2 separate regions of the Homo sapiens genome follow, and region 1 is linked to region 2. Evidence: fine-mapped expression QTL. A gene starts in region 2. The other region holds a variant in brackets. All regions are shown on one strand. Distances are from middle to middle.

The links. PIP is the estimated chance that this variant, and not a neighbour inherited with it, causes the effect. A credible set is the group of variants that fine-mapping cannot tell apart.
Region 1: its variant is the best candidate, but not a certain one, in a credible set for the expression of MRLN in nucleus accumbens (GTEx, PIP 0.90).

What each region holds. Positions count from the first base shown.
Region 1 is chr10:59,790,925-59,796,398 of GRCh38, forward strand. CCDC6 (coiled-coil domain containing 6) reads right to left here. Exons shown (of 9, transcript NM_005436.5): 8 at 3,549-3,673; 9 at 1-2,187. The coding sequence ends at 1,993. Among named protein-coding and RNA genes, the nearest start is that of MRLN, 40 kb to the left of the region's middle. The variant C/T (reference allele first, on the strand shown) is at 2,092.
Region 2 is chr10:59,750,838-59,755,837 of GRCh38, forward strand. MRLN (myoregulin) reads right to left here and starts at 2,618. Exons shown (of 3, transcript NM_001304731.2): 1 at 2,517-2,618.

The sequences.
Region 1 (5,474 bases), 40 kb after region 2:
TTGAAATCTATAATCTCATAAAAGATTCTTATAAACATATACCATATTTCTCCTATAAGAAAAACTGAGAACTGTACCATGAAGGCAAAATTTGTTTGCCTACTCTCAGAATTCCTTGGAATGGCAATGTACCAGGAGGGTGAGTGAACTGTTGGTGAAAATTCCGGGTTTGACATGGCCCAGTCTGATCACATCAAAAACCTAAAGCCTCAATGATTAAATGCCAAACTTCTTCCCTGCATCTGAGAACTGTATTATGATTATGTATATTACACATACATTATAAATAAAATTTATATAGACCTACAGTTTCTTCCAAACAATTGAGTGATGTTCTCAGTTTGGGGGTGGAAGCAGGAAGAGGTGAAAAAATCTTATTGTTGCTTTTACTCTCAAGTTCTTAAAACGCTAGTCAAACACTATTATCCAACAAGACTTTTTTTTTTCATTCTGTTAACTCTTAAATATGCATTCGAAGGCAAAAATGGAGGTTTCTATACTGTACAATATTAAATATCTACAATGTCATGGTTCCTTATTTTTAGGAGTGTGTTTAATAAAGAGTTGGCTATTAGAGATGGTTGTCACAAAACATGGACTCTTAAAAATTACTGATAAATTACTTTTCAGTTCTCTGATTATATCCAACAGATACACATTCTTGTCATAAAATATACATTCTCTAGTAAGTTATTTTCATCCACAGCATATATAAATATGCAAACACAGGTGGTAAAAATCACTTTACTACCAAAGTACAAAACAGCAACTGCTGAAAAACAAAAATTAAGATGTTGCACGTGTTAAGAAAAGAGTGACTCAGTGTTCCACTGCAAAGTGAAACCAAATGATTTATTTGTGCTAAATGAATGGAAATAATGTATTCAGAATATACTTCTTTGTACACTGCACTTGCTTATACTGGGTGAAATGAACAGCCATCAATGCTAATGTGCTACTTTCCTTTAGACCTTATTTTCTTTTCTGCCAAGCAATACAATATTTTCTGGCCATTATGCCAAGATAATGCGATAATGTCCATTTCAAATAGTATTTTCTAATGGTATTTTGCACCTTTAAAATATTTGTTCAAACTCTATTTTAAGAGAACACAAATGAAGTACGAAAGGGGGAAGCCGCATTGTTTTTGTTACAATCACACTGCCTTCTGCAGCAGAAATCAAATAACACATTCTAATTAGCCATTGAAACCACCGGTGAGTAGGACAACATTTATCGACTCATGTTAGAGGGGGCCAGGTTAAGTAGATTAACATTAAGGATAAAAAAGAGAATCACATCTTAATATACGATAATTATCCATCCCATTTATGTGGAGAAGGTACAGCCACATGATTCATTACTTTGGGCCATCTGTTTTACGAGAGACATGGATGTCAATAACACAATGAAAATAACCTGTAAAAAATGTATCTGTAGAAAGTTCTGTTAAACAGAAAATATGTCTTGGGCACTGATTCATCTAACTTTCTGTTCTACACTGAAAGCCAGATTTTCAAAGGTCTGAATTGTAGTGCTGAATTATTGGTATGTTTGGTAAACACTATTATAATGAGAGGAGGGTAACAACAGCTCAGTAATTTTCTGCAGATTCATGGAAAAAAATATAAAAAAGATATCCCTTTTTCTTTTACAAACCTAAAAGCCAGGAGAATGAAGCTCTGGGCCAAGCAAAAATTGCACACTGCTGCTGAAATACCAAATACCAAACAGCGAAGGTTCCAGCCAGGGAATGGACGTACATGAAGATTCAAGTAAAACACTGATGGAAAAAGTCGTCTGGTTAGTGTTGTAGACCCACAACACTGGCTGCATTTCTGACAAACATTTACAACACAATGGATAGTGAAGCCTAGATAACCTCAGTGCAAATAAGTCATATCCAAATATGCCAGAGAAGGAAGCCTTTGGCGTTGAGTAGACGGCTCCATTGGATGAGTCCCAACTTGAAATTCAGACTAAGCTCATGCATTAAGGCTGGGAGGAGGGGTGCGCCGAATGTTGCGAAGGAGTAGGCTGCGAGGTGGCTGCTGAGGGGACCGTGGGCTGCATGGGTGGCGGAGGTGGAGG[C/T]GGAGGTGGCTGGACTGGGGTCTGTGTGTTGGGAGATGGAGGCGGCGTGGGCCGTTTGAATTTGTCAGGACTGTTGCTTCTCCGTGGTGAAGGCCTCTGCAGAGGGGACAGGAACAGCAAGTCAGTCTAGGTACAGGTGGATCTCATTCTACCTAACACAGCCTGACTTGGCACTGGGGCTAATCAAACACTAACCAACAAAGACAAGAAACCAGGGATTTCTTTCTTCATCCCTACTGGTTTCTGAACTAGTAATAAAATTTAAATAAGGCAGTGTTTACACTTCCACCTATGAAAAAGCTACATAAAATTACTGCACAACTTGTGTTGAACAAACTGCTGGACTTGGGTCCTTCAACGAGAGCTGTAAAATATCCCCTTAAATCTTTCTTTCCGTGTGTGTCACCAATTCCCTCTATTGCTTATCTCCAATAAGTTGTCCACATCCTGAAAGATACAGCTCAACAGAAATGTTTCTATGTTTGAGGCCGGGTGCAGTGGCTCACACCTGTAATCCTAGCACTTTAGGAGGTAGAGGTGGGTGGATAACCTGAGGCCAGGAGTTCGAGACCAGCCTGGCCAACAGGGCAAAACCCCGTCTCTATTAAAAATACAAAAAGCAGCCAGGTGTGGTGCCGTGTGCCTGTAATACCAGCTACTCGGGAGGCTGAGGCAAGAGAATCCCTTGAGCTCCGGAGGCGGATGTTGCAGTGAGCAGACATCATGCTGCTGAACTCCAGCCTGGATGACAGAGTGAGGAAAAAAAAAAAAAAAGTTCCTACTTTTACATAAAGTCCATCAAACTGGCCAAACAGCTTCAGAAATACCTTAAGTGCATTCTTAGAATAGGGTTCTTCTTTAAAATATTATAATTTATTCTTTGAAATATTGGTATTTCTGTTATTGGAAATACCCTTAATAATACTCTCACTCTACTAGCTACATTTCTAATGGCTCTATTAGTCAACTATATTGCCGACTCTAAAGAAAAAACTCCCTTGGGTAGAGTTGGAACCAGATGCACTTAAGCTTCCTTGTAATTCGAGGAGAGAAAATTCTGAGTAACATTACAAACAAGGCTAACTTCAGGAAGAATACTGAAGGTCAGTGAACTGTGAAGGTGCAGACAATAAATATCTTTAGACATTATGGCAACCAACAATAATGCAAGGAGCTGGCCAGAGTTCAATCAAAGCACTGGCCAGAGTTCAAATTATATTTCACAAAGGGTAATTTTTCATAGGAAGTGAAGTTAAAGTTTTGTCTCCTGGGAAGGATTTTAGTTTCAATACCAGAATTTGGTATCAAACTGTTTAAGTCTCTACAGTTTCAAGGTGAACGGATGGAGGAGGCAGGAAGAAGGGCAAATGTCTAAGGGCACCGATCCTGTTCTCCAGAACACCAGTCGGTACCACTTTCAGGAGTAAAGTGCTGCTTCCTACCCCACGGACACTTACTGTGATACCATGGGATGTTCCCATGTGCTGCACGTGAAGACCCGGGGAATTGTAATAAGACATTCCAGCTCTAGTCAGTGAAGTTGGTGGCGTGAAACCAACCGTGTGACTTGCATATGATAGACCTAAAATATAACAACAAATTAAGTATCATTTTAAGCTCAACTATCTGGTGTCTTCAACTATCTAGGAGGTTTTAAATCGCAGTAGTTCTCTATCACCCACAAAAATACAAACAGATGAAAAGAATGATGGGCTCACTAAATGGTGTGGATAACAAGGGAAATAAATGTTAATTCCTAGGATAGAACAGAGAGCCCAGAAATAAACTCACACGTATATGGTCAACTGATCTTCAAAAAGGGCACCAAGAATACACAACGGGGAAAGAGAACAGTCTCTTCAACAGATGGTGTTGGGAAAACTGGATATTCACATGCAGAGGAGTGACACTGGACCTTATCTCTTACACTATATACAAAAGTCAACTCAAAATGGATTAAAGACTTAACTATAAGACCTTAAACTATAAAACTCTTAGAAGGAAAATAGGGGAAAAGCTCCCTGACATTGATCTTAGCAATGATTTCTTGGATATGACATAGGCAACAAAAAAAAAAAGCAAAAACAAATACGTGGGACTACATTCAACTAAAAAGTGTCTGCGCTAAGGAAACTTTCAGTCAACAGACTGAAAAGGCAACCTATAGAATGGGAGGAGATATTTGCAAACCATATACCTGGTATGGGGTGAATATGCGAAATACATAAGTAACTCCTATGACTCAAAGCAAACAAACACACTCAAATAGTCCAATGAAAAAATGCACAGAGAACTTGAATACACATTTCTCTAAAAAAGATACACAAATGTGCTAATAGATATATGAAAAGACGATTATCACCACTAACCATCAGGGAAATGCAAATCAAAACCACAGTGAGATATCACCTCATAACTGTTAAGTTGGCCATTATTATTTTTTTTCTTATTCATTTTTATTATTATTATTATTATACTTTAAGTTTTAGGGTACATGTGCACAATGTGCAGGTTAGTTACATATGTATACATGTGCCATGCTGGTGTGCTGCACCCATTAACTCGTTATTTAGCATTAGGTATATCTCCTAATGTTATGCCTCTCCCCTCCCCCCACCCCACAACAGTCCCTAGAGTGTGATGTTATTCCCCTTCCTGTGTCCATGTGTTCTCATTGTTCAATTCCCACCTATGAGTCAGAACATGTGGTGTTTCGTTTTTTGTCCTTGCGATAGTTTACTGAGAATGATGATTTCCAATTTCATCCATGTCTCTACAAAGGACATGAACTCATCATTTCTTATGGCTGCATAGTATTCCATGGTGTATATGTGCCACATTTTCTTAATCCAGTCTATCGTTGTTGGACATTTGGGTTGGTTCCAAGTCTTTGCTATTGTGAATAGTGCCACAATAAACATACCTGTGCATGTGTCTTTATAGCAGCATGATTTGTAGTCCTTTGGGTATATACCCAGTAATGGGATGGCTGGGTCAAATGGTATTTCTAGTTCTAGATCCCTGAGGAATCACCACACTGACTTTCACAATGGTTGAAATAGTTTACAGTCCCACCAACAGTGTAAAAGTGTTCCTCTTTCTCCACATCCTCTCCAGCACCTGTTGTTTCCTGACTTTTTAATGATTGCCATTCTAACTGGTGTAAGATGGTATCTCACTGTGGTTTTGATTTGCATTTCTCTGATGGCCAGTGATGGTGAGCATTTTTTCATGTGTTTTTTGGCTGCATAAATGTCTTCTTTTGAGAAGTGTCTGTTCATGTCCTTCGCCCACTTTTTGATGGGGTTGTTTTTTTCTTGTAAATTTGTTTGAGTTCATTGTAGATTCTGGATATTAGCCCTTTGTCAGATGAGTAGGTTGCA
Region 2 (5,000 bases):
CGAGGATGCAGAAATGGGTGCAGGATGCAGAAACGGGTGCAGGATGCAGAAATGGGACTAGGGGGGCTTGTTTGTGTTTTTTGACCTGCAGAACTCAGATATCCAAATGAGTGTCATTCCCATTTGGAGTTGGTGAATGGAGGGGAGTGGGGAAATCTCTGGACTTTTTTGAGTATTCAAAGGCATTTGGCAAAACCTTTTAAACTGCCTACTTGGCCTGCAACACACACTCCTTGGTATAAATTCACTGGTGGCAATGTCTTTATGTTTTTAGGTGCAGATCTGATTTCTGAAACAAGCTGATTGTTCTTTGGAGTCAAGTTTAGCTGAAAATAGATGGTTAGGCTGGAGAATAGAATTTCAAGTTTAAATGACAGACTATGACCACCTTTAGAGCAGAAATGATATCTCTAGCATTTTCCACAGAGCTTGGAACAAAGTAAGTGCTTAATGACAATTTTTTTCCATAGGGCAGATGAGGTATGACTTTAAGGTGTTGCTCTTCTATTCTTCACAAAGTCATTACTTAGAAGGTGATACTTGGCCAGGTGCGGTGGCTCACACCTATAATTCCAGCACTTTGGGAGACCAAGGCGGTGGTTCACTTGAGCCCAGGAGTTTGAGACCAGGCTGGGCAACATGGCAAAACCCTGTCTCTACTAAAAAAAAATAATAACAAAAAATTAGCTGGGCATGTTGGTGCACACCTGTAGTCCCAGGTACTCGGGAGGCTGAGGTGGAAGAATCACTTGAGCCTGGGAGGTGGAGATTGCAGTGAGGTGATATCAAGCCACTGCACTCCAGCCTGGGTGACAGAGTAAGACTCTGTCTCAAAAAAAAAAAAAAAAAAAAAGTGATACCCAAGGAGGAGTACTGAACCATGAGTAAGCCCATTCTGACTTTTATAGACCCCGTTTTAGGTTAGCACATGGTGTCTTGCACATGGTAGGAATTAAATACATATTTGCACAATTAAAGTTTACAGAGGAAAACAAAAATCCAATCATATTTCCTGAGTTACAGAGCAACACTTTGGAAAGCAGGTATTGAGACAATCCTTCTTTCTGTCTTATCCAGACACACAGAATCTAATGTGGCAAGGGTGGAAACCAGTCTTTTGGAAACATAGAAAGACAGAGCAAAAAGAAAAATGTTAGAATGCTGATTATAATAGAGCACATACGTTTATGGAAATAATAGTTTATATTTTGAAGTTGTTTGGGGAGGTTTCTCATCATCGCTGATCTTAGCTGTAGACTTAATGTCTTGATTGCTAACAATATACCATCCTCCAATCCACCTGTCCTCAGCATTTGCATGGTTTACACTATTCTAAAAATGAAGTTACTAAAAGTAGTAGAAGTCAGATATCGCCTCTACAGTTTAAATTCATGTTTCCCATCAAAAACCATATTTGGAGGCTCTGGATTTAAATTGGAAACAAATGAGAGATAATTAGGAAGATTCAGGAAAAATTCAAAGAAGGAATTTATAAATTTGTTAAAATAACAGTCACTGTCACTATACTTGGCTTCTTATATACACTGAGTAAACCCCACCACGTTGTAAAAGAGACTATGATTCTCATTTTACAAATGAGCAAACTGAGGCTCAGAGTGGTTGAGTACTTTCTTAGGATCACACAGCTTGTATGTGGTCCAAGCCAGGGCTCAACAACAAGACCACATCTGCCTCCTTCCAGTTCCCTGTCATGCTTCCCTTACACATTTTATTTAGAAGCCTGGTGCACATGTTCAAGAATTGAACATACATAACCAAAGCAGAAAGCTATATTAGTCTGTGGTCTTGAAGAAGGATTGGAGTGTCAGGTTTTAACCCTGCTCAAGAGAACCAAGCGGGGCATTGGCCTTTCTGGGCTTCAGGGTCCCCCTTTTCTAGACAGAAAACATAGTGACCTACTTTGAAGGACTCTCAGAAGCACCCAGCATAAAGAAGGCTGCAAAGACAAAGAAAGCCTCTGGCTAAAAAACAAGGAAGGAATGAATCCATGGAACAAGACAGGTGCCCTCTCTGATCCAAACCTATAACAAGGGGGAAAAAAACAAAAGTGCCCAGGTCTCTTGTCCAACTACTCCTCCCCCCAATCCCCTACATATACTTTTCATATGTGAAAATTCTCTTTGAAATCACTGGAATTCTATTTGGAGAGAAAATACAAGGAGACAGGTCAAGCTGCAGCCACAGGTCTTGGTCAAGTAGTTTAAATATCGTTAATCCTTTGCTTCTCCTCCTGCCTTTATTTAACCAAAAGAAAATGAGAGGAGTAGAAATCTAATTCATTGGTCTCTCTTTATAATCAGCCTTATAAAAAGCAGAGAGATGCTGCAGGGAATAGGAAATAGGCTTTATGAGTCTAAGTGAATTTTAGCCTACTATGTTCTCCCTCTATCAGAAGCACATAAACTTTAGAGTCACACTAAACTTTCCTCCAAAATCAACGTCTTAAAATGCTACATTAAAAAACAAAACAAAACAAACAAAAAAAAAACACTTACTGTCCAGGGGTTCAATAAGCGAAGTCCAAAGTCAAGGGAATGATCTCTCTCTTTTATGAAAAACACCATATGGTCTTGGTGGATCAGGAGGCTCACTGGTCTGTTATTAATAACTGGCTTAGAGCTTTATGAAGAAACATGAGCCAGAATGTCACGGGAGGAGGCAAGTGGAAAGAAATTGACAGGCACAGGTGGAACAAATTATAACAAAGATATACTTATGCCCACACAGGAGCTCAAAGAACCCATGAGAAGGAGATCAGTTCCTCCACAATCAATAGACCCTTATGTCAAGTTTTTGAAGAGTTAAACAACCAACAAAATATCCTGAATGTCGGCAGGGAACATCACACACCAGGGCCTGTCGGGGAGGGGGTGGGAGCCGGGGGGAGGGATAGCATTAGGAGAAATACCTAATGTAAGTCAGAAGTTGATGGGTGCAGCAAACCAACATGGCATATGTATACCTATGTAACAAACCTGCATGTTGTGCACATGTACCCTAGAACTTGAAGTATAATAATAATACAAAAAATCAGGAATGTCAAAAAGACACCATGACTCATTTAATGTTATACTATCCTTTGCTCTTCTGAACAATTATTTTCCATGGACATCTGAATATCTTCTTAAATTTATACATTTTACCTTGTTTATATTGACTCCTCAATTTTAAAAATCTATCAACAAATGGATTTTGAAATGCATGTTATCAACTTTTTAAAGTTTGTTTACCTGTGAGCATATCAGCTGGCTTCCCTTAGAGATCCCAAAACAATTCCTGGAAACATATAGGTACATGTGGGGGTTGGAGGCTGGATCTTGGGATTGTATCATACATAAATTCATGTGGTAAGAATGGAGGTGTAATCATCACTTTACTTCTGGTTGGCAGTGGCTCTCCTCTTTTGGAAACTTATATTTCAAAACATTCCAAATTCTGTGCCTTCCCTCCTCCCCCATAAATGGCATCAAATTGTTTATAATATTAACAGTATGTCTTTATACCTAATTACATTAAACACTGGTTCTGTCTGAAGTATTAAAAGAAACTGACAATTATGTGGCTGGGAGTGGTGGCTCATGCCTGTAATACCAGCACTTTGGAAGGCCAAAGCAGGCAGATGGCTTGAGCTCCGAAGTTCGAGACCAGCCTGGGCAGCATGGTGAAACCCAGTATCTACAAAAAAAATACAGAAAAGTAGCCAGGTATGGTGGCACATGCCTGCAGTCCCAGCTACTCAGGAGGCTGAGGTAGAAGGATCACTTGAACCCTGGAGACAGAGGTTGCAGTGAGCCAAGATCATGCCATGGCACTACAGCCTAGGTAACAGAGCAAGACTCTGTCTCAAAAAATAAAAAAGAAAACTGACAATTAGAGAAAAGTTACTGAAATACATAAAGATTGTTAAATTGCTTCTTTTTTTCTTTTTCAATAGAGATAGGGACTCACTCTGTCACCCAGGCTGAAGTGCAGTATCATGATCATAGCCCACTGCAGCTTTGAACTCCTGAGTTTAAGCAATCCTCCCACCTTGGCCTCTTGAGTAGCTGGGACCATAGGCACGCGCCACTGCACTCAGCTAAATTTTCTTTTTTTTTTTTTGTAGAGATGAGGTCTTGCCTGGTCTTGAATCCTGGACTCAAGTGACCCTTTGCCTCTGTCTCCCAATGTGATGGAATTACAGCCGTGAGCCACTGCACCCAGCCAACTGCTTCATTCTTAAGGTTCCAGCTACTTCTCACCCTGGCTCAGATCTAGTAACTGCTCTTTTGTCAAACTAAACCTTTTTCAGCTAAACGCTGTGGTCGGTGGGGTGGATACCTCACTACAAACCTCACCCAGTGGAATGTTATTCTACTGAGGCAACTGTGAAAAAGAGAAACTGATATGCTAGTGACGCTCAGTTTAATAGATGGGAGAGAAGGAGTGGAATAGGTATATGGCCTTTCTTTTTTTTCCATTCTCTGGTCAATTAAAAAATTTTGAGTACCCACTGAATATATGTATTTTTATTTATAGAACATATGCATATACTATTGTAAATATATCATTTAAATCATAAAATATAAACACAATTTTTAAAAGAAGAAATGTAAAAATAAATAGACATTCTAATATTTTCTTACCACACTTCCAATGGGTCATCTTTACTGGTCCCTGGGGCATGGACACTCCACTCTGCAGCTGACTGATGAGTGTTCAGAACACCAGGCCCACCACTTATTAGCTGTTGTGGGTTGAACTGCATCCCCTAGAGACATTTTCAAGCCCAAGTCCTCAGTACCTGTGAATGTGACCCTATTTGGAAATAGGGCCTTGCTGATATAATCAAAATGAGATCATGCTGGATTAGGGTGGGCCCTAATCCAATGACCTGAGTCCTTGTGAGAAGTGGGAAATGGGGACATAGTCAGGCACATAGGGAGACATCATGTGACAAAGGAAATAGATATTGGAGTGACGTGTCCACAAGCCAAGGA